3 separate regions of the Homo sapiens genome follow, and regions 2 and 3 are each linked to region 1. A link means that fine-mapping ties the variant in region 1 to the expression of a gene that starts in the linked region. Tissue or cell type: whole blood. Region 1 holds a variant in brackets; each other region holds the start of a gene. All regions are shown on one strand. Distances are from middle to middle.

Region 1 (4,000 bases):
CCTGAGGGACCCTCAGTCGGGCCTGGGCCTTGGAGTGAATTCTCTGCTCACCCCTCTCTCCTCCGCCAGCACTAACCCTTTCTTCCCAGGTGGTTTGCAGCGCAGCCTCCCACGGAGCCAGGACCTCGCCAAGCCCCATACGCCCTTGTCTCTCTTCCCTCTGCACAGCTCTCCTCTCCCTCCCCAACTCTCCCGGGAGCCCTGTCCCTCTCCATGTCCCCACCCCCACCCCTGTGCACAGTGCCACTGTCTGCTGCTGAGCCAGACCCCATGAGAGACCCTGCCGGCTGGGGGCAGGGCTGGGCGCCCTCCAGGAGGGGCCAGACTCTTTCATTCCCCGTCCTAGCCTGGGAGCTGCCTCTGGGAATCCCTTCCTCGGCTACTGACTTCGTGGGTACTGGGTGGGGGGTGGGGAGCAGGCTGCATCAGGAACCTGGGGAGAGAGTTGAAACCCCTATCCTGGAATAGGGAGACACTCCTGACACCCACAGTGGGTATGGAAACACCACTCTACCTTGCAATTTTTGCAGGAGGAAGAAAGAGGAGTTAAAAAAAAAAACACTGTCCGGGTGTGGTTGGTGAAGGATGGGATCCTGGACCCTAGCTCTTCCCTAAGTGGCAGAGAAGAGGGAGAAGGGGCCGGGTGCTGAGTCCCTGGACCGTCAAAGTCAGGAGTGACTGTAGCGGGGAGATTCTGCCCCCACTTAAATCACACAGGACCACCTCTGGGAGGGCTCTTGCCAAACTCCTCCCCAGCCTGTGGGGTCTCTAGCAGCCAGGGAAGGGAAGAGGGGCACCACTTCCCCTCACTAACCCCGCTCTTAATGGCCTTCAGGGTTCACATTTCCAGGGAGAGGGGCAGCTGGGCAGGGCGTGGGGAGGGGGTCGGGTCCCAGCCCGGAAACCCCCTTCCCATCACCAGCCATACCAAGCAACCGTGACTGCAGCAGCAGGAGGGGACAACCTGGCTCCCCACCAGCAGCGTGACCAACTTGCCTCTCTCCCCCCTCTCTCTCTCTCTCTCTCTCTCTCTCTCTCTCCTCCCTCTCGCCTCTGCCCCTTCTCTCCTACCTCCTCCCCTCCCGCCCACTCTGCCCAGTCTTCGTGTGCCCAGGGACCCTGCAGAAGGTGCTGGAGCCCACCTCGACACACGAGTCAGAGCACCAGTCTGGCGCATGGTGCAAGGACCCGCTGCAGGCGGGTGACCGCATCTACGTGATGCCCTGGATCCCCTACCGCACGGACACACTGACTGAGTATGCCTCGTGGGAGGACTACGTGGCCGCCCGCCACACCACCACCTACCGCCTGCCCAACCGCGTGGATGGCACAGGCTTTGTGGTCTACGATGGTGCCGTCTTCTACAACAAGGAGCGCACGCGCAACATCGTCAAGTATGACCTACGGACGCGCATCAAGAGCGGGGAGACGGTCATCAATACCGCCAACTACCATGACACCTCGCCCTACCGCTGGGGCGGAAAGACCGACATTGACCTGGCGGTGGACGAGAACGGGCTGTGGGTCATCTACGCCACTGAGGGCAACAACGGGCGGCTGGTGGTGAGCCAGCTGAACCCCTACACACTGCGCTTTGAGGGCACGTGGGAGACGGGTTACGACAAGCGCTCGGCATCCAACGCCTTCATGGTGTGTGGGGTCCTGTACGTCCTGCG[T/C]TCCGTGTACGTGGATGATGACAGCGAGGCGGCTGGCAACCGCGTGGACTATGCCTTCAACACCAATGCCAACCGCGAGGAGCCTGTCAGCCTCACCTTCCCCAACCCCTACCAGTTCATCTCCTCCGTTGACTACAACCCTCGCGACAACCAGCTGTACGTCTGGAACAACTATTTCGTGGTGCGCTACAGCCTGGAGTTCGGGCCGCCCGACCCCAGTGCTGGTGAGGACGACTCACTTCCAGGCATGGAGCCTGCTTGCCTTTGTCCCCTCCACCCCCACCCACCCCTGGGTCCCAGAGTGGGGAGCCCCATCCTGTGAGCTCTTGGGGATCGGGAGGTAAAGGAAATTCACAGCATGTGACAGACGCTGTTCTAAGCACTTCACAGTCATTAACTCGTCTCCTCACGGTCTATGACACAGGGATCCTTACTGCCCTGTTTTACAGATGACACTGAGGCTCTGTGTGGGTAGGGGATTAAGTTATTTGAGGATTTGAACCCAGCCTCCCAACCACTGAACTGCAGTGCCTCTCCCAGGGGCCTGGGCACCTTTACTCCAGGAACCCTTGGATCCACCAAAATCCTGGGTGGAAGTCCAGTATCCACAAAAGAGCTGAGCTGCTGATGCTGACCGGGCTGAGGGCAACTCTGCAGTCTTCTTTTGCCCCGCCTAGCTGCCCTGCTAGCTCTGTGCCACCCCAGGGCTCCAGGGAGCCCGATCTAACCCCATCTTGTTTGCAAAAGGGGGAGTTGAGGCCCCCAGAAGGAAGGAGCATAGCCAGGTTACATAAGCCAAAGTCAGCTAGAACGAGGATGGGGGGCGGTGGTATTCAGCCCCCACCTGGTGGCGGGGCTGACCTGGATTGGGGAGGGCTCCTGCCCTCGGGCTCAACCTGGGAGGATTCCTGTCCCCCAGACACCTCTGTCCCTGCCTCTCCCCTGACCGTTCTCTCAGACCTTATGGTACACATCGTGGATTTTTACCACTCTTTGCTACTTTATATGGGCCCATGGGCATAAGGGACTTTGGTGGGCACAGAGCGGCCAGGGGAGATCAACTCATAGACCCAGTGGGGCCCGGCACGTGTTTCCACTTCAGTAGATGAGGAAGATGCTAAGATGGCCTGGGACCCCCTGCCCAAGCACACTGTGGCATGGCCCTGAGCATGGGGATGACCCTGTCTCGTATCCCCTCTCCAGGCCCAGCCACTTCCCCACCCCTCAGCACGACCACCACAGCCAGGCCCACGCCCCTCACCAGCACAGCCTCGCCCGCAGCCACCACCCCGCTCCGCCGGGCACCCCTCACCACGCACCCAGTGGGTGCCATCAACCAGCTGGGACCTGATCTGCCTCCAGCCACAGCCCCAGTCCCCAGCACCCGGCGGCCCCCAGCCCCGAATCTACACGTGTCCCCTGAGCTCTTCTGCGAGCCCCGAGAGGTACGGCGGGTCCAGTGGCCGGCCACCCAGCAGGGCATGCTGGTGGAGAGGCCCTGCCCCAAGGGGACTCGAGGTGAGTACAGAGGCTGCAGCCAGGGGAGGGATGGGGGCCATGCCCCCAGCAGCTTAGCACAGATGCATGTGTGGGTGGGGGTCTCTACTGCGGAGCAGAGGTTTTCTGAGGGCAGGGGTCATCCCCAGTGACCAGCAGAGCTCTCAGGGCACAGGAGCCACTCAGTGCCCCTGGCCCCACCTGCAGAACCTGCAGGGAGTCCGCAGGAGGTGACCTGGCTCCCGGCCTCAGGCTGACCTGCCACAGCCCCAGGCACAGTCAGCTTCACATGGATGGCCAGCTGAAGTGCAAAAAGGGCAGGGCCGTGTGTCCTGGAGATCTGAGGGGAGGGTTGGCAGGTGCTTCGTGGAGAGGGGGCGTTCAAGATGGGCCTTGCTGGAAGGTTCTAACTCTGGAGGCAAAGACAGAAGGGGGCAGGAGGGAGAGCTCAGGGGAAGTGAGTGGCGCCTCTTTCGACTGTCCAGCCCGCTTCATGTCTGTTTCTCCGTGTTTCCCTCACCTCCCTCTTCGCCCGCTCGTCCCCCACTCTCTGTCATCTCCTTTCCCCCTCTCTGTCCCATCCTTCTCTTCTTCCCTTTGGCTCCCTTGTCTGTTCCTGTCTGTCTGTCCCTGCAGGAATTGCCTCCTTCCAGTGTCTACCAGCCTTGGGGCTCTGGAACCCCCGGGGCCCTGACCTCAGCAACTGCACCTCCCCCTGGGTCAACCAGGTGGCCCAGAAGGTACCAGCCACCACCCCTCGCAGGCAGGCACATGTGCTCGGGCCCAGGGCCCAGGGCCCAGCGGGGGTCGTGGAGCAGCTGGGGAGA
Region 2 (4,000 bases), 25 kb after region 1:
GTGGACTGCTTGAGGCCAGGAGTTTCAAGACCAGCCTGGGCAACAGCGAGACCCTGTCTCTACAAAAAATTTAAAAAGTATAAGAGGCAGGGCACGGTGGCTCATGCCTGTAATCTCAGCACTTTGGGCGGCCGAGGTGAGTGGATCACCTGAGGTCAGGAGTTTGAGACCAGCCTGGCCAACATAGTGAAACCCCATCTTTACTAAAAATACAAAAATTAGCTGGGTAAGGTAGCGTGTGCCTGTAGTCCCAGCTACTCGGGAGGCTGAGGTGGGAGAATCGCTTGAAGCTGGAAGCAGGAGGTTGCAGTGAGCTGAGATTGCGCCACTGCATTCCAGCCTGAGTGACAGAGCAAGACTCCCTCTCAAAAAAAAAATAAAATAAAATAAAACAAATTAGGCATGGTGGCACGCACTGGTGATCCCAGCCACTCGGGAGGCTGAGGTGGGAGGATCACTTGAGCCCAAGAGTTCCAGGTTATAGTGAGCCACGATTATGCCACTTGCACTCCAGCCTGGGCAACAGACCTCTATTAAAAAAAAAAAATCCCACAGGAACTGGATTGTTTAAAAAGAAAAGGAAAAGGAAAACATACTAGCACAGTGAGTGAGTCCTAGTGAGCCCACAGAGGTGACTGGGTAAGAAATACTAGTGCCTTGGCTCAGTGCTGTTCAGGCGTACGGCCTGTGAGTTTGAACACTGTCCAGAGCACCCTTAGAAAGGCCTCTCTGGGGAGAGGACATTTGAACAGAGACTTGAATGACAAGAAGGCATAAGCCATGCCAAGAGCCTAGGAGAAGAGGTTCTGGGCAGAGGCTTTGCACTGGGAGTGGCTTGTCAGAATTTTAACAAAAAGAGGGTTACTTAGCCTGGTTTGAAGTTGGAGCTGGGTGGTTAACAGGAGACAAAGCATAGAGTTTCAAAGACAATGCTCTCATCCGGAGAAGTGACCTGGTCAAATGTGTTTCTGACCTTCGCTGTCCAGTAATACAGGAGCCACTTGTCACACGGGCTCAGGAGCACTCAACTGCGGCTATCAAGACAGCTAAACTGAACTTTCTTTTTTAAAATTTAATTTTAATTTTTAGAGACAGGGTCTCACTCTGACACTCAGGCTGGAGTGCAGTGGCTGGAGCATTCTGGGCTCAAGAGATCCTCCTGCCTCAGCTTCAGGAGTAGCAGACACTACAGGTATGCACTACCACACCTGGCTTATTCTTTTATTTTTTGTAGATATGAGGTCTTGTTATGTTGCCCAGGCTGATCTTGAACTCCTGGCCTCAAGAAATCCTCCATGACCAGCCTCTAAAATTACAAATAATAATAAAAAAAGATATGGCCGGGCACAGTGGCTCACGCCTGTAATCCCAGCACTCTGGAAGGCCGAGGCGGGCGGATCACTTGAGGTCAGGAGTTCGAGACCAGCCTGGCCAACATGGTGAAACCCCGTCTCTACTGAAAATACAGAAAAAAAATTAGCTGGTTGTGGTGGTGGGCACCTGTAATCCCAGCTACTCAGGAGGCTGAGGCAGGAGAATCGCTTGAACCCGGGAGGTAGAGGTTGCAGTGAGCCGAGATCGCGCCATTGCACTCCAGCCTGAGTGACAGCGCGAGATTCCATCTCAAAAAAAAAAAAGTGGCTTCCAAAAAATGTTAATTTTACACCTAATTTTGGTGCGCGGCTGGCATTATTTTTCCACTGGGCAGCACTGATCGCCCGTGGGGGCAGAGACTCTGAGACCTGGAGTCTCCCAGGCCGGGGGCGACGGCCCAGACGGGAGGCGGTGGAGAGAAGTTTCCGGATGTATTATGTGGTCATGAATCATGTCAGGGAATTGCCACGGCCCCCGTTGAATGGGGAGGCGCTGCCTCGGGCGCTGAGTAGCAGAGCCCGGACTCTGAACACTGGTCTGCCCCCGAACTGGAACTCCCATTTTCAGTACCGTCCGCTTGAAACCTCCCAAGAGCCCTCAAGGGGGCGAGAGAGGGATCCAAACCCCTCGGGGGCGAGAGCGGGATCCGAACCCCTCGGGGGCGAGAGCGGGATCCGAACCCCTCGGGGGCGAGAGCGGGATCCGAACCCCTCGGGGGCGAAAGCGGGATCCGAACCCGGCCGGATTCCCGAGGTCTGAGCGCGCCTCGTGACCGCCACTCCGAACGTTCGCAACGTTCACAACGGACTCCCGCGCCGCTGGACCTCAAGGGTCAGGAGCCACTCAGAAAAGCTCCAGGAAACGCTCACCTGTTGACAGACGCTGAGGCCGCAAACGCTCCTCCTCTCTCTTCACACTCGCCAACACCGCGGTGGCGCTCGACTTCCGCTTCTCTCCAGCGAATCCCCAGCTGAGCCTCCTTCTGCTCCCGCCACCATTACCAATCCAGCCAATAAACTCTCAGAAAACCCTCTTTATCTCCGCCCCACTCCCTCCTGCCAATCACTTCGGGTGCGAGCACCGCCCTTCCCGCCTTCTTTAGCGAGCGCCGCGCGCCACCGCTCGGCGGGTGGCGGCGCTGCGCGCTGCGGGATGCATCTCCCGGAAAAGCGAGGCGAGGGGCGGGCCACGCCGGTGCGGGAACCCTCAGGATTGGCCAGAAGGAGGCCGGCGCTGTGACTCCGTCCATTCCCGCCGTTGACATCCAAGTCGGAGACGCTGGGGATTGGTTTCCAGCGGACACGCTAAGAAGCTTGGAGATAGTTTCGCCCTCCTCACACGCTGCGGAGAGGGAGCTCCGCTGATTGGTCCGAGGAGTCTGGGCGCGCGCCGATCGGCGCTCCAGGACTGGCTGAGGGGGTGCGCGCGCCGCCAGGGAGCGTTGGCGGTGATTGGCCAGAGGGCGGAGGCCGGCTATTTGAAGGCGGCGCGCGGACTAGGTGCGCACTTCAGTTCTCGGAGAGAAGAGGCGGGAGTGGACCTGGTCAGCCCTACCCCACTGACCCCACCGGACCCAGGCGCGGCCTCCGCCACAGCCACAGCCCCTGCCCCTGCTGCGGCGCGGCGAGGCGAGGCGATGGCCAAGGTGTCGGTGCTGAACGTGGCGGTCCTGGAGAACCCGAGCCCTTTCCACAGCCCCTTCCGGTTCGAGATCAGCTTCGAGTGCAGTGAAGCCCTGGCGGACGGTGAGGCTGGGCCTGTGCGGGGACCCCCACCCCCGGGCCGACCCCGGCCTCCCCTCAGAGAACCGCTCCCATGGCCAACTTGATCTCCCCCATGAAACCCCTCGTCCCCCTTCCGCCAACCCCGATCTCCCCCAGCCCGCCAGTCAACCGGATCTCCCGGTGGAGACCCCCCGCCACCAGCCAACACGGACCTCCCCGTGACCTCCTCCCCCACTGCCCGCCTTGACCTCCCGGGTGGAGACCCCCCGCCAGCTAACTCGGACCTCCCAGTGGCCTCTTCCCCCACTGCCCGCCCCGACCTCCCCATAGAGATTAACCCCCTCCAAGCCCCATTTCCCGCGTGGGGAACCTCATCCATCTTTTTTCTCTGGAGCTCTTCCTAGGTACCCGTTTTCATGGGGAGACCTTCTCGGCCTCCATTTCTTAACCCACGGAGATCTTCAGCCACCGTGGTTTCCCTGTGGCAAGACCCCCGCTTCAACCACCCACCCATTTTTGCCCACTTATTCCCTCTTTCCTGTAGTGAGATACTCACACCTCCCATTTTCCCTCTGGAGACCCCCAATATCCAGCCCCTTCCCATTTTCCCCGGGGGAAATCCCAGCCATCTCCTATTTTCCCTATGGAGACCTCTCACCCAAGCTCCTCTCTCCTTGCCGTGAAGACCCTCCCCTCCAGTAACCTTTTTTTCCTGTGAAAACCCCTCAACCCCTTTTCAGGACCTCTCTCAACCCCATCTTCCCATTTGTGTCCCACCAGTCCCCTCCCCAACCTGCCAATATTTCAATAACCCCACGCCCACCAGTTGCTGCCGCTTTTCTGCCCCAATGCACATACCCTGGAACCTGGTTTCTCTCCTTCGTTGGGGCCCAACCCCCCTA
Region 3 (4,000 bases), 44 kb before region 1:
CCCTCCAGCCCCCACCCTGCACAAAGTTGCCTGTTCTGCCGAAGTGCCTATTTTTGGCTTGGGGCCCAGTTTTATAGCCCCAGCTATAGGTCTTGGCAGTCATAACTTTCGCTCTCCAGAGAGCCAAGCCGGGTCCAACAGCCTTCCCCACCCCAGAGAGGGGGTGCGGGGGCTCCCTCTGCAGCCTCAACCCGAAACCTGCCCCTCGCCTCACTTGGTCTGATGCCTGGGAACCCAAGCCTGCTTCTTGCCCTACTTCTTAGAGTCCACCAGCTGCAATGGAGTTGTTAGGTGTTGAAAATCCATGCCGGGTTTTTACTCTTTTAGAGAACATAAAATTCAATTTTTCCCCTCGCACCCCCTCCCCAAAAGCAAGACTTTGAGGCGTTTACAGGTACAAACCTCCCCCTAACGCTTCCCTCCGCCCCTGCTGCCCGGTCAGCTCCAAGCCCCTGTCCCGGTGGCCCAGGATCTTCTGCTGAGGGTCTCATCCCGTCCCGCGCTCCAGTCCTGGCTTTGCGTGCCTCCCTCGCCTTTTATTGTAGGTCTGGTCTCCCAGGGTAGCGGCCTCATCGCATTCCCTTCGCAGCGCCCCTGGATCCAGAAACCGCTTTTACCTGTCCGCTCCGGTGCAGCCAGCGCGCCAAATCCCTTCGTACCCGAGTCCAGTCCTCCTTTTGCCCGTCCCCCTTGCACGTCGCTGCCAGGAAGATGAGGGCAGCCCAAGTCGCCTCAGCCACTAAGCATCCCCCTTCCAGAACCCCCCACCATGCGAACCCAGGTCCCGGGAGTTCCGGGCCGGGTCTTGCTTGTTTCCACTGCGTTAGGCCTGACGCATTACTCCGTCTCCCGAGAAAGAATCCGGCCCGAAATTTGCGTGCCCCGGGTGCATTTGGCCATGTCGCATCTACCCCCCAACCCCCCGCTCCAACACCGTTCCTCCCATCTTTATCTAATCCAACTCGGGTTTTGCACAACCCTTCCAGATCTCCCCATTTGCGCCCTCCTTCCCCGGGCTCGGCGCCTTTCCTTATACTTCACTGGAAAATCCGCTCCGGGTCTTCCTTACGCCTGTCTCCCTTCCCCCACTCCCCGCTCCAACGCGGGGCTCCAGCACGTCGCTTTCCCTCTCCCTGCTTTTCCAGGGAGGAGGCGAGAGGAGGCGAAAGGAAGGAAAGTCCAGCCCGGGTTTTCGGGCCGGCTCCTGGGGCGCTCAAGCGGGTTGCGGCGGCCAGTCCCGGGCGGCGACTCCGGGCCGGGTTTTGCGCGCGCCCACCGCCCCCCTCCCGGAGCGGGTGCGCCGGGGAGCGGGGCGAGCAGGCGGCTTGTCATTGCTGGTGCCCGGCGCCGGCTCGGTCCGCGCGTCCTGCGGTGCCCACGGGCCCGGCCCGGCGCCCCCCCTCCGGCCGCACCGGGGGCGCGACGCCGCGGCACCCGCCTCCAGCCGCGCCGCCCCCCTCCGCCAGCTCCGCGCCGCCCGCCCCCAACCCGAGCTCCCCGCGGCCACTGCGGGGAGCCCGAGCCGTCGGCGCGGGAGCTGTCGGCGCTGCGGTGCCCCCGCCCCGCCGTCTGCCGAGGAGGCCCCGGCTGATGGGGCCGCGCGGGCCCCGGAGCGGCGCCGCCGGGCGGCGGGGGCCTGCAGGGGCGCCCCGGCTGCCCCGTTAACCCCTCGTCCACCGCCGGCGTCGGAGGGGGCTGGGAAGTCGCCTGGGCGCACACGTGCCGCCTCCGTCGGGGCCGCGGAGCTGCGGGGGAGATGCGGGCCGCTGCCGGCGCCGCCTCGGGGCGCTCCGCCTCGCCCCAGCCCCCGGCGCTCTGACGCCGCCCCCGCCCCACCGCCTCCCTCCCCGGGAGGGGCGCAGACCCGATCGCCCCCAGTCCCGAGCCTCCGCCGCCGCGAGGGGGCCGCCTTTGGATCCGTGTAATCCGCCTCTTTTTTTTCTTTTCTTTTCTTTTTTTTTTTTTTTCCTAATTTTTGGTCGGCGGCGGTGCTGGGCCAGGGGAAGGAAGGGACACGGAGGCCGCCCTCGTCCCGCCACCTCCTACCCGCTTCCCCCCAGCCCCGGCTCCGGGAGATGTGCCGGGCGGGGGGCCCGGGTTCGCCGAGCCGCAGGAGAGACACGCTGGGCCGACCCCAGAGAGGCGCTGGACAGGTGAGTGTCTGCGGGCCCAGGGCGAGGGGCGAAGCCGCACCTGGGCCAGGTGTGCGGGGCGCGTGGAAGAGGGGAGGCGGGAAGGATGGGAGGCCGGGGCCTGTCCTGGCCGCGAGGGGGGAGGGGACACGGGAGCCGCGCGGGGCACCGCACCTGAGCGGGAGGGGCGTCGGGGGCAGCCCGCACCTCACCCCCACTGGCGAGGGGCCTGGGAGGGGCGGCCCCCACGGAGCGCCCGGGGCGCGGGGGTGCGGACGGGCTACCGCAGGGTGCCTGGCGGGGGGAGGGGACCGCGAGTGTGCCCGCGCGTGGCTGCGTGTGCCCGCGCGCGCGCCAGCCTTTGTGGGGAAGCGGCGCGGCGGTGCCTGCGTGTCCCCGGTGCGTGTGCGCGCGGGTGCTTGGCGCCCTGTTTGTGTAGGTGTCTGGGTGTGAGCGGAGGGGGTGCGTGTGCGCGCCGCGCGCCGGCCCCGCGCCCCAGAGGAGCCGTGTCGGGGGCTGGCACCACAGGATGCTGGGCGAGGGGGTTGTTTTTCTCTGGGAGGCAGTGGCGCGGGGGATGGGGAGGGGTCCGTCTGGGTGTCCAGCCGGCCGCAGTCCGGGGGGCGCCGCTGTCAGGAGGAGGGGGTGCAGCCGGGCAGCACCTTCTCTCCGTGGTGCCGGGTTAAAGCACGGGAGGCCGGCAGGTTTGATCCACTCGGATTATTCGTGCTTTGAGGACAGCTCCCCACCCCCACCCCAGGTGCGCATTGGATTGAGCTGCGAGGGTTTGGTTGTCATCCTCCCATCTGACGGTCCTGGGACCCGAGTCCAGGCCTGAAGTGGTGGGGTGGGGGGATGCTGTGTTTGCTCCAGCCGTGTCCAGAAAATGCCCTCCCAGGTATCTCTCCAGTGCACCCCTGGCCCCCATCTGAAGACAGCCGCTGGCTACACACACCCCTGTCTCTACACTTCCAGTCCGGGTCCTCACACTGCCCCATCCCTGGCCAACACCTCACTGTACCTGCCTGGACCCTTTCTTCCTGTTCCAACCCCCATCCACCCCCAGCCATGCCAGCTGCGTGGGTGTTTCTGTATCCCAGTTCCAGGCAGGGCCCCCCCTTCCGCCTGGCTTCCACCGGACTCAGAGCTGGGGTCTGTCTTCCCACATCCCACTTCCCAACATGTGTGCCTGGGGGCAGGAGGGGGAGGGGTTCAAAATGGCTGCCAAGATGGCTGGCTCGCGCGCTCTCTCTCTCTCTGTCTGTCTCTCTCTCTCTCTCTCTCTCTCTCTCACTCTCTCTGTCTTTCTCTATCTCTCTCTGTCTTTCTCTCTTCCCCTCTCTGCTTGCCCGGCTCCCTTATCCTGGTAGGGAGTCACTGCTTAGAGGAGGTCGGATCCAGTGGGGCACACCTGAGGGTGAATGTCTATTCCGGGCCGTTGACCTCCATGCTGTTTGGGGACAGACCATTGGTTTCTGCTTCTCTCTCCAACACCCCAAGGGCTGGCATGAGTCTAACCTGACCCCAGACCCCACTCCTTCACCCTGGCTCACAGCCTGAAAGCTCCGTGCCCTCCACCTGCTCTCCAGGGCCTGGCCCCCTGAATTGATCAACCCCACGGAGGGTCCACACCCCTCATTCTCTTCTCCTGTCTGCCCCCGGCAGGGGACTCTGCGTGGGTCCCTGTCAGGCCCCAGCTTTGGGGGGCAGGTGACTTCTCCTTCCTCCCTGCTCCCCTCCCACTAATGCCAAATTTATTACTTAAAAGTAGGATGAAAACAGGGAGAATAAGAGAAGGATTACAACCTTCATTATCATATCGAGAAAATTATCCGTGATTTTCCTAACTAGCAATTTGTCTGCCATGC

What was found. PIP is the estimated chance that this variant, and not a neighbour inherited with it, causes the effect.
Region 2: it holds the start of ADGRL1-AS1, and the variant in region 1 is fine-mapped to the expression of ADGRL1-AS1 in whole blood (INTERVAL, PIP above 0.99).
Region 3: it holds the start of ADGRL1, and the variant in region 1 is fine-mapped to the expression of ADGRL1 in whole blood (TOPMed, PIP above 0.99).

What each region holds. Positions count from the first base shown.
Region 1 is chr19:14,160,506-14,164,505 of GRCh38, reverse strand. ADGRL1 (adhesion G protein-coupled receptor L1) reads left to right here. Exons shown (of 23, transcript NM_014921.5): 5 at 1,100-1,900; 6 at 2,880-3,194; 7 at 3,810-3,913. All of the region lies in intron 2 of ADGRL1-AS1 (ADGRL1 antisense RNA 1), which reads right to left. Among named protein-coding and RNA genes, the nearest start is that of ADGRL1-AS1, 25 kb to the right of the region's middle. The variant T/C (reference allele first, on the strand shown) is at 1,677.
Region 2 is chr19:14,135,467-14,139,466 of GRCh38, reverse strand. It overlaps ADGRL1-AS1 (ADGRL1 antisense RNA 1), which reads right to left and starts at 2,315. Exons shown (of 3, transcript NR_045214.1): 1 at 2,244-2,315. It overlaps ASF1B (anti-silencing function 1B histone chaperone), which reads left to right and starts at 2,878. Exons shown (of 4, transcript NM_018154.3): 1 at 2,878-3,119. The coding sequence starts at 3,011. RefSeq lists enhancers at 2,233-2,392, 1,889-2,515, 2,593-2,732 and a silencer at 3,063-3,112.
Region 3 is chr19:14,204,138-14,208,137 of GRCh38, reverse strand. ADGRL1 (adhesion G protein-coupled receptor L1) reads left to right here and starts at 1,969. Exons shown (of 23, transcript NM_014921.5): 1 at 1,969-2,153. RefSeq lists silencers at 1,176-1,275, 1,296-1,355.